Linked DNA regions of Homo sapiens: region 1 is linked to region 2. Evidence: fine-mapped expression QTL. Tissue or cell type: whole blood. Region 2 holds a variant in brackets; the other region holds the start of a gene. All regions are shown on one strand. Distances are from middle to middle. Region 1 holds the start of APRG1 (APRG1 tumor suppressor candidate). Region 2 has its middle 14 kb from the start of ITGA9.

Evidence for each region. PIP is the estimated chance that this variant, and not a neighbour inherited with it, causes the effect.
Region 1: APRG1 starts here. The variant in region 2 is the best candidate, but not a certain one, in a credible set for the expression of APRG1 in whole blood (TOPMed, PIP 0.77).

What each region holds. Positions count from the first base shown.
Region 1 is chr3:37,377,408-37,385,747 of GRCh38, reverse strand. APRG1 (APRG1 tumor suppressor candidate) reads right to left here and starts at 4,671. Exons shown (of 5, transcript NR_171174.1): 1 at 2,377-4,671; 2 at 1-607.
Region 2 is chr3:37,433,593-37,441,932 of GRCh38, reverse strand. It overlaps a transcript of APRG1 not described here. Among named protein-coding and RNA genes, the nearest start is that of ITGA9, 14 kb to the left of the region's middle. The variant AGCTGT/T (reference allele first, on the strand shown) is at 4,350.

The DNA of each region.
Region 1 (8,340 bases), 56 kb after region 2:
TTAATGGATGGACCAGTCTTCAGTGCCTCCTGGGTTTATGTAAGAAGCTCAAGTCTAGCTCCCCACCTACAGGGGTCTGAAAGTTTCTATCAGACTCATCTGGTGCTCCACTCACAAACTCTTGGCCTCCCCTCTGATTCAGCCATGGCTGGGGTGGACAGTGCCATGTGGGCTTAGGTTCATTATATATGACAGTGTCAGCCTCAAGCATACAACCAGGCCCCATGAACCAGTTCCATTCCCTCCCCAACCAGCCTCAAGAGCCTGTGATGGGGCAGGATCCAGGGGTCAGGTCTGGACCAAACAGGATGATTCCTTGGGACAGCTGGGATCAGGCTTCGTCCAAGGGTTGGTTGTGAATAATAGTTACGGAGCCCTGGAGGCCAGAATTAGGGTTAACTCTGAGAGAATATAATCAAAGGTCAGGAATGAAGGGCAAGTTCGAGACTGAGCAGAGTTGAGGTAAAAGGAAAAGGCCAAGAAGGTTAGACCCAGTGGTTAAGACTGCGAAGCTGCTACGGTTGACACAGGCAGGAACAAAGTGAGCATGTGTATTCTCATTGAATACTGGCAGTAGGATTACTGGGCAGCCATTCACCTCACAGACCTAGGGTAGAGCAAAACAAGCCTGGATTATCCCAGGGTAATGCAGCAAGGTGGTCACCAACAGACTAATAGAACACAAATAGGACTAATAGAGAACCTGATGGCAATTCTGGCTTTAGGCTCAGGAAATCCTGAGTTTTCTCCAACAGACTTAGAGCCAAGGTTAAAGCAGGGGCCCCCTCCTGAGCTTTCCTTCGGGCCTGCCCCAGAGAAGCCCTGGCTGCTCCAAGTGATCATTAGCTTTGCAAACACTAGAGTTCAGCTTGACACAGCATCTCAAGGATCCCTGCAGGATGAGGGCACAGAGAGATGAAATAGACCCACTTAGAGTGGGGTGCCTCTGAGGTCAGAGGGAAAGGAAGGAAATCCTGCTCTCAAGGCAGGACAGTGTGTGAGAAAACAACAAGGGCTGGAAAGGACAGCCAGATTGGTGAAGCCCCTCCCTGCAGTCTTTGCTTGTCTTTTTTAATGAGTCTTCCCTTTGCCAACCTCCAGGCGAACGTGGGCACCTCTTTTGGCTTAGGCTCTTCTCTGTAAGGTCTTCCTGGCATTGGCAGGGGTTGGTTCTGGGCAGTTGGTGACCATAGTCATTAGCATCTTGCCTATTGTGGCCAACCACAAAAGTGCCTGGCTTTAGTTTTGTTCAACCTGCATTTTACCTGGCACTCTTGCATGTTAATAGTTAATAATTAATAATTTCAATCTTATAAGCTATTAACAAGAGGCTGGCAATAGACAATTTTAATTGAGCTCTTACTGTGTTTCAGACACCATTCTAAGCATTTTATAAGTAGTAATTCAATCTACAGCCACGCTTAGAGGTAGATGCTATTATTATTCCCATTTTATAGATGGGAAAAATGAGGCTTACAGATTAGTTCCCTTGCCTAGTGAGCAAATGGTCAAGCCAGAACTTGAACACTGACAGACTGGCTTTCTTAGTCTGTTCTGTGCTGCTATGACAGAATATCAGAGACTGAGTAATTAATAAAGAACAGAAATTTATTTCTCACAGTTCTGAAGCCTGGGGAGTCCAAGATCAAGATGCCAGCATCTGGTGTGGAACTTCTTTTTGTGTCCTCACATGGTGGAAGGCAGAAGGGCAAGAGAGAGAAAATCCACTCCCACAAGCCCTTTTTATAGTGGCATTAATCCATTTATGAGGGCGAAGCCCTTAGGATCTAAACACCTCCCCAAAGGCCTCACTACCCAACACTGTTGTGCTGGGGATTAAGTTTCCAACACACAAATTTTGGGAGACACATTCACTCCATAGCATTGGCCCCAGGGGCTGTACTCTTAGCTAGTAGCCAATGCTGCCTCTCCAGGAGATTAGGAAAAATTAAACTCAGAGGACAGAGTCTTCTTCTGGGCCTATGCTAAATTTCAAATCAAAGAGGCTCAAATCCCAAAAGAAAAACTTATCTAGAAAAGAAGGAATGCCCCAGGGTCTGTTGTTCCCCTTTTTGTGTTCATGAGTTCTCATTATGTGGCTGCTACTTGTATGTGAGAACATGTGATATTTGGTTTTCTGTTCCTGTAGTTGTTTGCTAGGGAAAATGGCCTCCAGTTCCATCCATTTTTCTGCAAAAGACATGATCTCATTCTTTTTTACAGCTGCATAGTATTCCATGGTGCATCTGTACCACATTTTCTTTACCCAATCTGTCATTGATGAGCATTTAGGTTGATTCCATGTCTTTGGTATTGTGAATAGTGCTTCAGTAAACATTCAGGTGCATATGTCTTTATGTTCCTTTGCGTATATACCTGGTAATGGGATTGCTGGGTCAAATAGTAGTTCTGTTTTTAGCTCTTTGAGGAATCACCACACTGCTTTCCACAATGGTTGAACTAATTTACACTCCCATCAACAGTGTATAAGTGTTCCCTTTGCTCCGCAACCTTGCCAGCATCTGGAGAGGATCAGAAAAAATAACTATTGAGTACTAGGCTTAGTACCTGGGTGATAAAATAATCTCTACGACAAACCCCTATGACACGAGTTTACCTATATAACAAAGCTGCACATGTACCTCTGAACCTAAAAGTTGTTTAAAAAATTTAAAAAAACAATAATAATAAAGTAGGAATTAAAACAATAGAGAGCTTTTTCCAGCTGTACTCATTCCCACTGGTGTGTCTTGATCAGTTGTGAGTTGTGTTACAAGTAATTGGTTCCTTAAAATAGCAGTATTTGTGATTAATTGACTTATAAAATAAGAGTCCATATTCTGCCCATAACTGTGTTTCTCATACTCCCTTGCATTTCCATGTGCCTTCTCATTGGAGAAAGAGGTGATATTCTCAGTCTTTTCAAAATGTTTTGTTTTTAATTACAGAGAAAGTACTGATACATTTTATCCCCTTTCTTACTCACTTTTTCATTAATTTATTCACTCAGTACATGCTTATTGAGTGCTTACTACATATTCTAAGTGTTAAGGATGCAACAGTGAGCAGGATGGATAATGTTCCTGCCCTCTTGGAGTTTTCATTCTAGTATGAGGAAAAAGACAATAAACAAATAAACACACAACATGAGGGCAGACAATACTAGATGCCATAAGAAAAAACTAAAGAAGTGTGAGGAAACAGAGATTGGGTGGTAGTGATCAGGGAAGATCAGTTATAAACACCATGGTGAATTAACTATATATCCTTCCAGTTTATATATGCATACATTTATTAAAAGTATGTATATCTGTGACAATACATACAACTTTTAAAATTTACATAAATAAAATCACATTGTATTGGAGACTTCTGCTTCTGGGAAGATAGACATACTTCTCCCTATGCCTCCCACAGAATGCAACTAGAAACACTGGACATTATATATAAAACAAATATAACACTCTAAAAGACGAAGCGAAGCCAGACCAGCTAGAGACCTTGGGACCTAAGGAATGCCATGGTGGTGAGTTCCCTGGGTTTTCTCTTTGCTTCATAGATCCCTGACTTGGAGCTGAAGAAGCCAGCTACCTGGAAATGCTGAATTCAGACCAAAAAAAAAAAATAATCTCCAAAAAAGAACTCCTCTCTCTAGCCAAGGAACCAGGACAGAGGCAGCCTAGCAAGACAGAAAGCTTTCAGACAACTGTCTACTCCAGCCAAACACCACAGAAAATACTGCAGGCCCACCCCCATTCATGCCAGCAAATGTCGAGTGGACAGCCTAGACCTCTAACATCTGCCAAGCTGTAAAGGAAGCACACTCTGTCCAGGGTGATGTCAGAAAAGGCCACGTAGGAAGCATCCCTGGTGGGAGGCAGTGAGACCTTCCCACCATATCATGTCCCCATGTCAGTGGAGACCATATGGGAAGTCTGGACTTCCACCCCTGTGAAGGGTAAAACAACTTCATCTTGGATGCTAATTAACCCCAGTTGCGGGAATTCTTCTGAGATTTCTTTCACATACTTACTAAATCCTGCCCTTAGGTCAAACAACCTTAATGTTATCCTGTACTATCATATTTGGGATTAAGATAAGATGTGTGTGTGTGTGTGTGTGTGTGTGTGTGTGTGTGTGTATATGTGTATACATATATGTAATTAGTGGAGGCCTACTGGGTATCAGAGGAGGCCTACTGGGGAACCCTAACTCTACACCTCCACCCAACAGTAATAAGGAGACCCTCCCCAACTCCAGGTGTTAATGAGGGCCAAGTGGAAAACCTAGACTTCTGCCCTCACCTGGCAGTAATGGTGTGCCCCCAACTAGGTGCCCTTCCCCGTCAAAGTGTGTCAAAAAGGGCCAGCTAAAACAGAAGATCCAGAGTTTCATAATATCCAAAAGGTTCAGGTTTCAGTTGAAAGTCACTAGACATACCAAGAACCAGGAAAATCTCTACTTGAGTGGAAATAGATAATCAGTAGATACCAACACCAAGATGACAGAGATGTTAGAAATATCTGGCAAAGATTTTTTAAAGCAGCTATCCTACCAACACTTCAATGAGCAATTACAAACATGCTTGAAACAAACAAACAATTCTCATCAAAGAAACGGAAGCTATAGAGAGCCAAGTGGGAATTTTAGAACTAAAATATACAATACCAGGAAAAAAAAAAAAAACCCTCAATGATGGGTTCAATAGCAGAATGGAGGGTTCCAAAGGAAAGAATCAGTGAACTGGAAGACAGAACAATAAATTACACAACGTGAACAACACAGAGAAAATAGGCTGAAAAAATAAATGATCAGCGCCTCAGAGACCTGTGGGACTACAAAAAAAGATCCAACATTGTGTCACTAGAATCTCAGAAGTAGGGTAGGGCTGAAAAAACACCTAAAGAAATAATGGCTGAAAATAACCCAAATCTGGCAAAAGACTAAAACCTACAGGTTAAAAAGGCTGAGCAAATTCTTAACAGGATAAACCTAAAGAAATTCATAGCAAGACATATCATTGTCACACTTTTAAAAACTCAAGACATTATCCTGAAATTTATTTTGGTTGTTCTTGTTGTTGTTTTGGTTTGTGTGTTTATTTACACAACATAGTAGTCATCTTTCACTCAGATGTGGCGTATGTTCTATCCACCCAAAACTCACACACCCAAACCCAATGCCAGGAGAGAAATGGACTCCATCTATTCTAACAGGAGATACCGCAAAGTCATATAACAAAGTATGTAGCTGTGAAATCCAAACACAGGGAGAGAGTGAAGAATTGAAAACAATAATCCAATCTACCATGATCTGCACACTGGATCATAAATATTCATTTCCTTCCTGGCTGCTGGGAAAAATATACTCATCCTCTTCCCCAAGATATCCCAAAAGACTTGTCCAATGATTGCATTGACATTATGTCCAGGATCTCATGATCAATGCCAGATCTTGATTCAACTTCTCTTGGAGACCTGTGAATTTTAAAGACAAATTATCTGTCCCACCCACTCCCAACATACAGTAGTGGAAGAGAAACAGGAACAGAGATAGGGAAACACACTGAATACTCCTGTTTAAATGGGAAAGAGTGCCTAATCTGGGTGTGGGGCAACCAAGAAGTCTTCCAGAAGCAGGGGAGTAAGCCACTGTAAAATTATAAGGAATAAAACCATATCTGCATTTTAGGCTAATCTGGAGGAAAATCTTTAAATTTTTAAATGGTGGCATTGTTTACAAAGTGTCATTAAGACAATGTTCACATGCTTGGAGTGTGAACATATCTAAAGAATATAACAACAACAACCACCACCACCTAACCAAAGAGGATCCCAAATTAAGGTGAGAGAAAATTGATGGTTGTAATAGAAACAAGTGGCTCAAGGATGGAAGGCATGCTGCGCTGCCCTTCCTGCACCCTCACCTATCACCCACGTACTCTGGCCATAGAAAGTATGCTTTAGTCATTGCTATTTCCCCTCATCTTTGACACATCAAATTGAGCAGAGCCCAGTGTTGAAAGGTGTTGTTCTAAAAGCATACCAACTCAGAATATTGACCCGTGCACTGCGACTTAGAGTGTTAGGGGATATGGCACCAGACAAACCTGCCACATGATAATCTGAAATGTATCCACTTGTTTGGCACCAAAGGCTACTTACGGAAAGACAGGTTGGTCCTGATTGTTTTTTCAAGTGCTTCTACCTACAGAAAAGTAAGAGCATTATGGAGTACTGAATGAAAGTGACTGCACATAACCAAAATGTTCAACAGCAGAAAAATGAGTTAAACAACGGTATATTCATAGGATAAAATATTATGCAATTAAAGACGGTTTCAAAGAAATTTTAATGACTCAATATAAATAGACATATAAATTTATGTACATACACACAGCCTGTTGTTCCGTCCATCCACTCACATATTAGAAAAATACTGTATGGGCTGGGCTCATGCCTGTAATCCCAATAGTTTGGGAGGCTGAGGTAAGAGGATTGCTTGAGCTAGAAGTTCAAGACCAGCCTGGGCAACAAAGACTCTGTCTCTTCAAAAAAATTTTAAAAATTAGCCAGGTGGGTGGTGCATACCTGTAGTTCCAGCTACTCAGGAGGCTGAAGTGGGAGGATCACTTGAATCCAGAAGATTGAGGCTGCAGTGGGCCATGATTGCATCATTGCACTCTAGCCTGGATGACAGTGAGACCCTTTCAAGAAAGAAAAGAAGAGAAGAGAAAAGAAAAGAAAAGCTATTACTGAATGTACCAAAGTGTAACCAAAATGCAGCTGCTTGCAGAGTCCAATTAACAAGAGTGAGGCCTGGTATAAAGAAAGTGACTTTTTATTCCAAAGCTAACTTAGGAGAACATATGCAGACTTCCTGCCTTAGGGGCACCACCTCACTTTTTGAGCAGAAAGTGAGTGCTTTTATTTATTTTTTATTTATTTATTTTGAGATGGAGTCTTGCTCTGTCACCAGGCTGGAGTGCAGTGGTGCGATCTTGGCTCACTGCAAGCTCCGCCTCCTGGGTTCACACCATTCTCCTGCCTCAGCCTCCCGAGTAGCTGGGACTACAGGCGCCCACCACCACGCCCAGCTCATTTTTTTTTTATTTTTAGTAGAGACGGGGTTTCACCATGTTAGCCAGGATGGTCTCGAACTCCTGACCTCGCGATCCTCCCACCTCAGCCTCCCAAAGTGCTGGGATTACAGGCATGAGCCACCACGCCCGGCCGAAAGTTAGTGCTTTTAAAAGGGGGCTTTGCATGAATGGCATACAGGAGAGGAAGTGAGCAGCTAGGGGTCCACATAACTTGCTTCGGGGCTTTATCTAGTGGGTAGCTGAGCTGGTGACTACTGGTGCCTTTGTGGGCAGAACTATATTGTAAAGGTGGCCAAAACGCTCCAGGTGGGACAGAGTTTTGTAGTGGACGTACTTTGGGATGTAAATTAACTGTTTTCTCTTAAGACAACCTCCTGGTTGGAGAGAGCTTCCCAGCAGAGCTTCTTAGGACAAAGTTAGATGCGCTTGCCCTGTAGGGAGTGTCTGGTGAAGGGAAGGTAAAAGGTTATAATTGCATTTCCAAAGAGCTAAGTAGGAATCGGGGAAAAGGGGGAAAGAGAAAAATTTTTTTTTAATTATTCATTTTATCTCTTAGAAAAATGGATGTACTCTGTTACAATTCCTCACTGCCAAGTTCCATTCCATTTCTATGGGATTTGGGCACTGTATTCATTCTAGCTAAGTACTTACTGCTAATGGAGACATAGTCACTGAGCATCAGAAGGGAACTAATCTACTTGGGGCTGGAAATATTCATGAGTACCTGGACTTACAGATAATATTTGTTGGAGCATTATGATGCAAGGTCTAGAAAGTTTCTGGGAAAGCCTGCCTTGCATTCCTTTTCAGAGGGTGCAACGACAGTAAAATCCACAACGTGGAAGTCTGCTTATTCTTGCACAAGGACCAAAGTCATAAGTAGCTTCTGCCACCAAAATAGTCCTGACCTGAATCAGGATGATCTAGCAACAATGTCGGATCAGACATAACTTTGATTTGTTGGTTCATGTCTTGGAGGGTGATATGGTTTGGCTCTATGTCCCAACCCAAATCTCACGTTGAATTGTAATCCTCAATGTTGGAGGAGGGGCCTGGTGGGAGGTGACTGGATCATGAAGGTGGACTTCCCCCCTTGCTGTTCTCGACAGTGAGTTTTCATGAGATCTGATTCTTTGAAAGTGTGTAGAACTTCTCCCTTCTGTCTGTCTCTTTCTCCTGCTGCCCATGTGAAGATGTGCCTACTTTGCCCTCGCCTTCTACTATGACTGTAAGTTTCC
Region 2 (8,340 bases):
TCTCGGGTTGCTCAATCCCGGGAAAGCCACACCAGCCGCCATGTCGTGAGGACACTCAAGCAGCCTGTGGAGAGGCCCATGTGGAGAGGAAGTAAAGCCTCCTGCTAACCTCAAGCACCAATTTGCCAGCCATGTCAGGAGCCGCCTCAGAGGCGGACCCTACAGGTCCAGTCAAACCTTCAGCCTCAGCCAATAGCTTAACTGCCATTTATGAGAGACCCTGAGCCAGAAGCACCCAGATAAGCCACTTCGGGATTCCTGACTAACAAAAACTGTAGTATAATTGATATTGTTTTAAGCCGTTATGCTTTGAGGTAATTTGTTACATAGCAATAGAAAACCAGTACAAATTTGGGGGTAATTTATGACCCAGTAATAGATAACAAACACATACCTCTTCGCCTCAGTGGTGAGCTGATGGGGATGGTAGTTAGAGCCACATAACAGATCCGCATTGCCACAGCTGCCTTTCTGAGTCAGGACACAAGGAAATCCTGCCTAGTGTGGGATGGCTCTGTGGTGGAACAATTGACCTAGCTATGGTCCGAGACTTAAGACCTGAGTCCAAATCTTGATCTGCCACTTACCAGCTGCCAGACACAGGGTTAGTTGCTACACCTTATAGGGACTCCATATCTCATCTGATAATAGTATCCACCTAGTAAGGAGGACAGATTAAATGGAAATAAGTGCACCAAAGTAACAACCAGATGGGGGGTCAGTTGAACCCAGTGGAAGTTATTCAGTCATGCGTCACATAGTGATGGGAATACATTCTGAGAATGTATTGTTAGGGCCGGGCGCGGTGGCTCAGGCCTGTAATCTCAGCACTTTGAGAGGCTGAGGCACCCTGAGGTCAGGAGTTCGAGACCAGCCTGGCCAATATGGCAAAACCCTGTCTCCACTAAAAATACAAAAATTCACCGGGCATGGTGGCATGCACCTGTAATACCAGCTGCTCAGGAGGCTGAGGCAGGAGAATCACCTGAACCTGGGAGGCAGAGGTTGCCGTGAGCTGAGATCATGCCACTGCACTTCAGCCTGGGCGACAAGTGAGACTCCGTCAATGTGTTGTTAGGCAATATTGTTGTGCAAACCTCTTGGAACATACTTACACAAACCTAGATGGTATAGACTACTATATGCCCAGGCTACACGGTGTAGCCTATTGCTCCTAAGCTACAAACCTGCATAGCACATTACTGTACTGAATACTGTAGGCAATTGTAACACAAAGGTAAGGTAAGCAATTGTAACACAAAGATTTAGATACACAAAGATACTTTTGTATCTAAACAAAGAAAACGTACAGTAAAATATATACTATAAAAGATTAAAAATGGTACACCAGTGTGGGGCACTTACCATGAATGGAGCTTGTAGGCCTGGAAGATTGCTCTGGGTGAGTCAGTGAGTAAGTGAATGTGAAGGCCTAGGACATTCGTGTACACTAATGTAGACTTTATAAACACGGAAAACTTAGGCTACACTAAATTTTTTTTCTTTAATTTTCTTTCTTCAGCAATAAACTAAGCTTACTATAACTTTTTTATTTTGCAAATGTTTAAATTTTTCTAACTTTTTGGCTCTTCTATAATAACAGCTTAAAACACAAACATGTTATATAGCTGTAGAAATATTTTCTTTCTTTATAGCCTTATTCTGCACGTTTTTTTCTATTAAAATTTATTTTTACTTTTTAAACATTTTGTTAAAAGTGAAGACATAAACACACACATTAGCATAGGCCGACACAGGCTCAGGGCCATCAATATCAGTCTTCCACCTCCACATCTTGTCCCACTGATAGTCTTCAGAGCAGTAACGCATATGGAGCTGTCATCTCTGATGATAACAATGTCTTCTTCTGGAACACCTCCTAGAGGACCTGCCTGAGGCTGTTCTACAGTCAACTTTTTTTAATAAGTAGAAGTACACTCTAAAATATGAATAAAAATATAGTATAGTAAACACATAAACCAATAACATAGTCATTTATTATCATTATCAAGTATTATGTTCAGCACATAATTGTATATACTATGCTTTTTTATGTGGCAGCATAGTAAGTTGGATTTTTTTGTTATTTTGTAGAGACCGGGTCTCATTGTGTTGCCCAGGCTGGTCTCCAACTCCTGGCCTCAAGCAACCTACCACCTCAGCCTCCCAAAGTGCTGGGATTACAGACAAGAGCCACCTTTCCCAGCCTCACACATGAGCATCACCACAAACATGTGAGTAACATGTTATGCTACAACATTATGACAGCTACGTCACTAGGCAATGGGAATTTTTCAGCTCCGTTATGATCTATGGGACCAGCATCTTATCATCCATCATTGACAAAAATGTTATTATGTGGTGCATGACTGCATTTTAAAAGACATTTTATTTTTACTTTTATTTTTTGAGACAGGGTATCACTCTGTTGCTCAGGCTGGAGTGCAGTGACATGATCTCGGCTCACTGCAACCTCCATTTCCAGGGCTCAAGAGAACCTCCAACCTCAGTCTCCAGAGTAATTGGGACTACAGGTGTGTGCCACCACTTCCAGCTCATTTTTTTGGTTTTTGGGTTTTTTCGTTTTTGTTTTTGTTTTTTTGCAGAGACAGGGTTTCGCCATGTTGCCCAGGCTGGTCTCAAAGTCCTAGGATCAACCAATCCACCTGCTTCAGCATCTCAAAGTGCTGGGACTACAGGCGTTAGCCACTGCACCCAGTCTAAAATGACATTTTAAACATGAATAGCTGGCACTATAGCTATGTGTCCAATCTGCTGCCCAATTCAACCTCATACCATCAGGAGTCATTAAATCGGACCCACACAGGCCTGACAGACAAGGCAATGCGGTCTTCTCTTTTGGTTCTCAGCTTATCTAAATTACATTCTAGATTGTGACATTCTAAGATTATTTACATATTCCAAATGTGCTTAAGAGACAAACTTGGAATTAACGTGGAACTGAAAGCATTTTGTGGGAAGTATCTAGATAGGCCAATTCATTTTGTTTTTCTGTCTGAGCCTGTGAGCATCCATTCCTTCCCACAATCATAACAATTCATCAGGCTCCAGCTCTTTAACATAGACCTCTCCTCAAACCAATTAACAGAGAGGAGGGAGAGTGGAGAGTCAGTGGATTCAGTGTCCTTGACTGTCCTGAGGCAGCCTCCAACAAGTCTGACTCCCTGGGTTGGGTCCCTGTTCCAACAGTCCCCACCTGCCCTCCTTTCCTTCCCCTCTTCCCCCAAACCTCCTATTCTCTAAAAGCTCTGTCCCCTACAAAGTACGTGAGCAAGAGCAGACATTACCCATACCAGAGGTGACAGAGCAGAAGGAAAGAACACAGCAGGAGCTGGGCCATCAGACCACTTGGGTTCAAATCCTAGTTCTGCTCTTGACCAGTTGTGGAACATGCGGCATTTCTCTACCTCCTTGAGGCTCTGTTTCCTCATCTTTAAAACAACCTATTGTGGTGGGTGTTTGATAGTCTTGTTGGCTGTCCGAACCACTCCTCACTTAAGTCCACCCACTCGTAAATGGGATTAGTGCCCTTATGAAAGAAGCCCAAGGGAGCTTGTTTGCCCCTTCCAACACGTGAAGACACAGCAAGAAGGCACCATTTACGAACCAGAAAGTGAGCCCTCACCAGACACTGAATCTGTCAGCACCTTGATCTTGGACTTCCCAGCCTCCAGAACTGAGAGATAAATTTCCGCTGTTTCTAAGCTACCTGGTCTGTGGCAATTTGCTGTGGCAGCCCAAAGGGATTAAGATACAGATGATGTAAAACTTGAGGCATGTTTTCAAACAACTGCAATACATCATGCATCAGCACTTATTTTTCCCTAGGAAAACAACAGTACAGTGAATTTAGTGACTAACAGGTTAGCTTCCTGAGTAACTAGGACCTAATGGCCAGGTGTCCCAGTTGGAGGCTCATCACAAAAGGTGGCAAATGACCATAGGCAACACCAAGTAGCCACTCCCTCAGTGCATTGTAGGCCGTCACAGTATTTACATGGGCAACCCCAAGGGTTCAGGGCTTTCTGTTCTGGTTTCCATCCATCTCACTATATAAGAGGGAATATATTTTTACCTCTCTCTCAAATTTGGATGCTGTTAAAATAGTATGTATTTTGCCGCTGAAGTTATTTTTTAAAAACCAGGTATGTTATCTTATTCTGTGTGTGGTATGGATATTAAGCAATTTGATATATTTTGACTATAAACATGGATACCTAAACAGAATATAAATGAGATCAGTCGTCTATGATCACCTAAGATCAAGTGAAACTCTTTGCTTACCTTGCAGTCTCCACGCACTGATTAGAAGGCAGGCAAATTTCATG[AGCTGT/T]GCAAAGAAGGAAAGAAACTTGTAGCAGATGCTGTGGATGCTCCACGCAGATGCCACCAGCATGTGATATTTCTGTGCATGTGGCCTGACTTCCAACAGCCAGCATCTAAGACTCTTTGTCGAAGGCTTCCTGATTACTGGAGCCCTCTCTGCCCACACACATGGCAGGCCAGAAATGCTAGAGAATGAACACTTCCCTGGAGCAACACTCAACCAATGACTCCCTTTGCTCCAATGAAAAAACTCTGAGCTGTATATTCTACACTGGCTCCCAGAGTTCCCCAGAGGCATTGAGCTCCAGTTGCCCACAGTGGTAACTTGCTCAATAACGCACTCTCCATTGGCTTCCTTCCTTCCCTGTCTTACTTCTCCAGTCCCTGAATGGTGATCCCTGAATGACTGTTTCTCAATTAAGCCACTTGCACTTGAATCCTTGTCTCAGGTACTGCTTCTGGAGGATGCAAACTAAGACAGCGATGTGTGAAATTCAAATATCAAAAGGTCATTGAAAAAGCAAAGAAATAAATCAACATGGACCTTTAGTAGTTGTGGACAATGCTATCCTGATTCCTCATTTCCTGGTACCTAGTCCTTTTACTTCTGACATCCCTCTCACCAGACTTTTGCCATCTTCCACCAACATGACATTTTGGACCTTGGCCATGAAGGTTTGTCATTCTCAAGTCCACTTATTAATTAGCCCAGCTTACCCAAGTTGAAGTACAAAGGAAACTCACTAATTGAGCAGCCGTTGGGAGCTGTCCCCTAGTTTCATCCAGGGCCAGATCTCCCGGCTCTGTGTGACATGCAAACTTCAGTCTCCTCAGAGGACCAGGCTTTCAGGGGACAGAGTCAGTCTACCCAAGAACCAAGAGGAAGAAGGCCCAGGCAGATGCACAGGGACAGTGGGAAGTGCAGCCTGCACAGGACACAACTTTCCCGGTGAGGGAGCCATGCCTAAGACTAACTTGCAGCTCAGGAAGTTGCTTATTTAAAAAGAAAAGAACATTTCCGAGCAAACATCTCACTGCAAACCAAGTTTGCTGTAGTTGCTGTTTAATGGTCAGCACATTCACCTCTTTCATGAAAACCCTGGTTCAAAACAGGGCGGCGAGCCAGGCGTGGTAGCTCACACTTGTAATCCCAGCACTTTGGGAGGCCAAGGCAGGTGGATCACCTGAGGTCAGGAGTTCGACACCAGCCTGGCCAACATGGTGAAACCCCGCCTCTACTAAAAATACAAAAATTAGCCAGGCGTGGTGGCATGCACCTGTAATCCCAGCTACTCGAGAGGCTGAGACAGGAGAATCGCTTGAACCCAGGAGGCAGTTGCAGTGAGCCGAGAGCCCACCACTGCACTCCAGCCTGGGCAACAAAGCAAGACCCCATCTCAAAAAATAAAATAAAATACAAAACAGGGCAGGGGCACACACCTCTATGCACTGCATGCTCCTTTAGGCGAGATCATCTGTATCCTCTTAAATATGTTTGGTTAAAAAATGTATACATATATTTAGGTATCAGATGACATGTATAAAATAATCAGAAGTCCCTCTAACTCAGCTGACTCTGAACAATGAAGCAGAAGAGTTTACTAGAAGGATACTGGGTGGTTCACAGAATGTGAGAGGGAAGCTCCAGGCCAGGCTTCCAAGAGTAAGACCCCAAAGTTGACCAGTGTGCTGGTGTGTTTGAAGCTGCCTCTGCCACCGTTAAGCACTACAGTACATAACCACTGCATGCTACAGTAGGAAACAGCACCACTTCTGTCAGGAACTTGACCTTGCAGCCCCCTCTGCCAGATAGAGGAAACGCCCTGTCCCCTCCCACCCAAGGTGATTTAACAGTCTTTGTCATGGCCTGTGCTGCAAAGGAGGCAGGAAAGTAAGTACAGCAGTCTCAGATCTGAGAGGCGGGGGTCTCTGGCCCCCATCCAAATTGAATGGCCAAAGTCTGCCTCAAGCCCCAACTCTCCTCCCCGGATGTAACCAGTATTAAGACTGTGGATGTATCCTTCCAGCCCTTTTACACACACAGTTTTAGAAAACGGTTTTTGTAAGAATGAAATTATACTATAAATATCGTTCTGCAACTTAATTTTTCTACTTAAGTCATGTACACCTTTCCATGTTCACACATATAGATCTAACTTGTTCTTTTTGACTACAAAAAAAGATTCTGCAGAATGAAGTGCCATCATTTAGCCAGTCCTCTGTTGATGATATATAAGCTGTAGCCGCTATCTTACTATAACAAACCACAGAGGGAAAGCATCCCAGGGTATGTTTGTCATTGTTGCTGTTTGCACACGCATGTTGTCATTTCTGTAGGAATGGGTTCCTAGAAATGGGCAGCTGGGTCATACAGGCCATAGGGTCTGTGGTCTTTATCCTCATTGCAATATAAGGATGTTGGATTGAACTGAACTTCTCCACTCTGGGGACATTTCTATCCCAGGAACCAAGATAATTCTAGAATCAGGATGGCCCCCGGCCCAGCCAGTGCCAGAGCAATGCTGACCCAGGGCTCTCCTAATTTTGTTTTCCAGGCATCCCCACGCACCAGGTGTGCTGCTCCATTGCAGCCTCTTCCTCTTTTCAGTCCATCCAATGCTGTGATTCCACGTGAGAAGAGACACCTGTGTGGAGCAATGGAAGGCTGGTTTGCAGTCCCAGATCTGCCAGCAGCTGGGATTGAGTCAGTCCCCTCCCTTTTCTGAACTTCAGTTTTCTTACCTTTAAAATAACAGACATGGGCTAAATTAATGGTTTTCTAACTGTGTTCTGCCAAGACCAGCATTCCACAGAGGCATCAGGAACTGCTTCAGAACTTGGGGGATGGAGGGCAAGAGAGCAGGTCCTGGTCCTCGTGAGCTCTGCTATTAACATTGCTGTGTAATGGGATTCTGTGTGAACATTCATTTGAAAAAGGCGTTTTGCTCCTAAAGGGAAATTGAAAACTATTCAGTGTGAGTGGACAGTTTATGCTCCACATCACAGAAATCCCACTCCATAGTGGTTTGAGGGGAAAAAATAAGGGGGAGGATGGTTATTGGTTCACATAATTGAAATCCAGGGGATACTGACTTCAGGCACAGCTCAATCCAGGGGGCTCAAATATTATCAGAACCCACTCTTGTTTCTTCTCATTACGTTGCTATTCACAATGTTGGCTTCATTCTCAGGCTCAGTGTGGCGCCAAAATGGCTGCCAACAGAGTCAGGCCTATATCCTCCCAGGTTCAGGTCCAGCAGAAAACGCCATGTGCCTCTGTTGTGACAGTCACAGCAAAAGACTCACCACATCTTATTGGCTTGGGCTGAGTCATGTTCCATCCCCAGGCCAACCACTGTAGCCAAGTGAATGTAATAACTTGATTGGCCTGGCTGAACTCATGCGGTCAGTGGAGCTAGGTGTGAAATAAACCTTACCCAACATACATTGACTAAATGTGGGACAGGGATGATTCTCCAGAAAATTGTATTATTATTTCCCAATGCTGAGTAGCCAAAAATCAATGCATATAAAACCATGCACATGTGTTTATTCAATGACCAATTAAGATACTGATAAGACAGGATCTGCACCATACACTGGAGATGCAATGATAAATTAATTACAGTCCCCATGCATCTTGTGATGGGCCAGGACCACTGCAGGTCAACAAGGTCATCAGCCAGGAGGAATACCAGGCCACAGAGAGGAGGACAGCAAGGATAAATGGAACCCGCCAGCACCTCTGCATCTGTCTGTCACATCCAACCCTGAGAATCTTCAGAGAATAATGGTGGCTGCTTCACTTCTACCTTCCAAACGTTGTGCAAATTATTCTCTGGACCAATTCTAACTTGAGACCACTCAGAGAAGGGGATTCTGGGAAACATAACTCCAGCCTAAGCAAGTTGATGTAGTTCAAACCACAACAGAATCCATTTGCTGCTATCGCCAGAGTTGAACCATCCAATACTCTGAATAAAGTATGTTTGT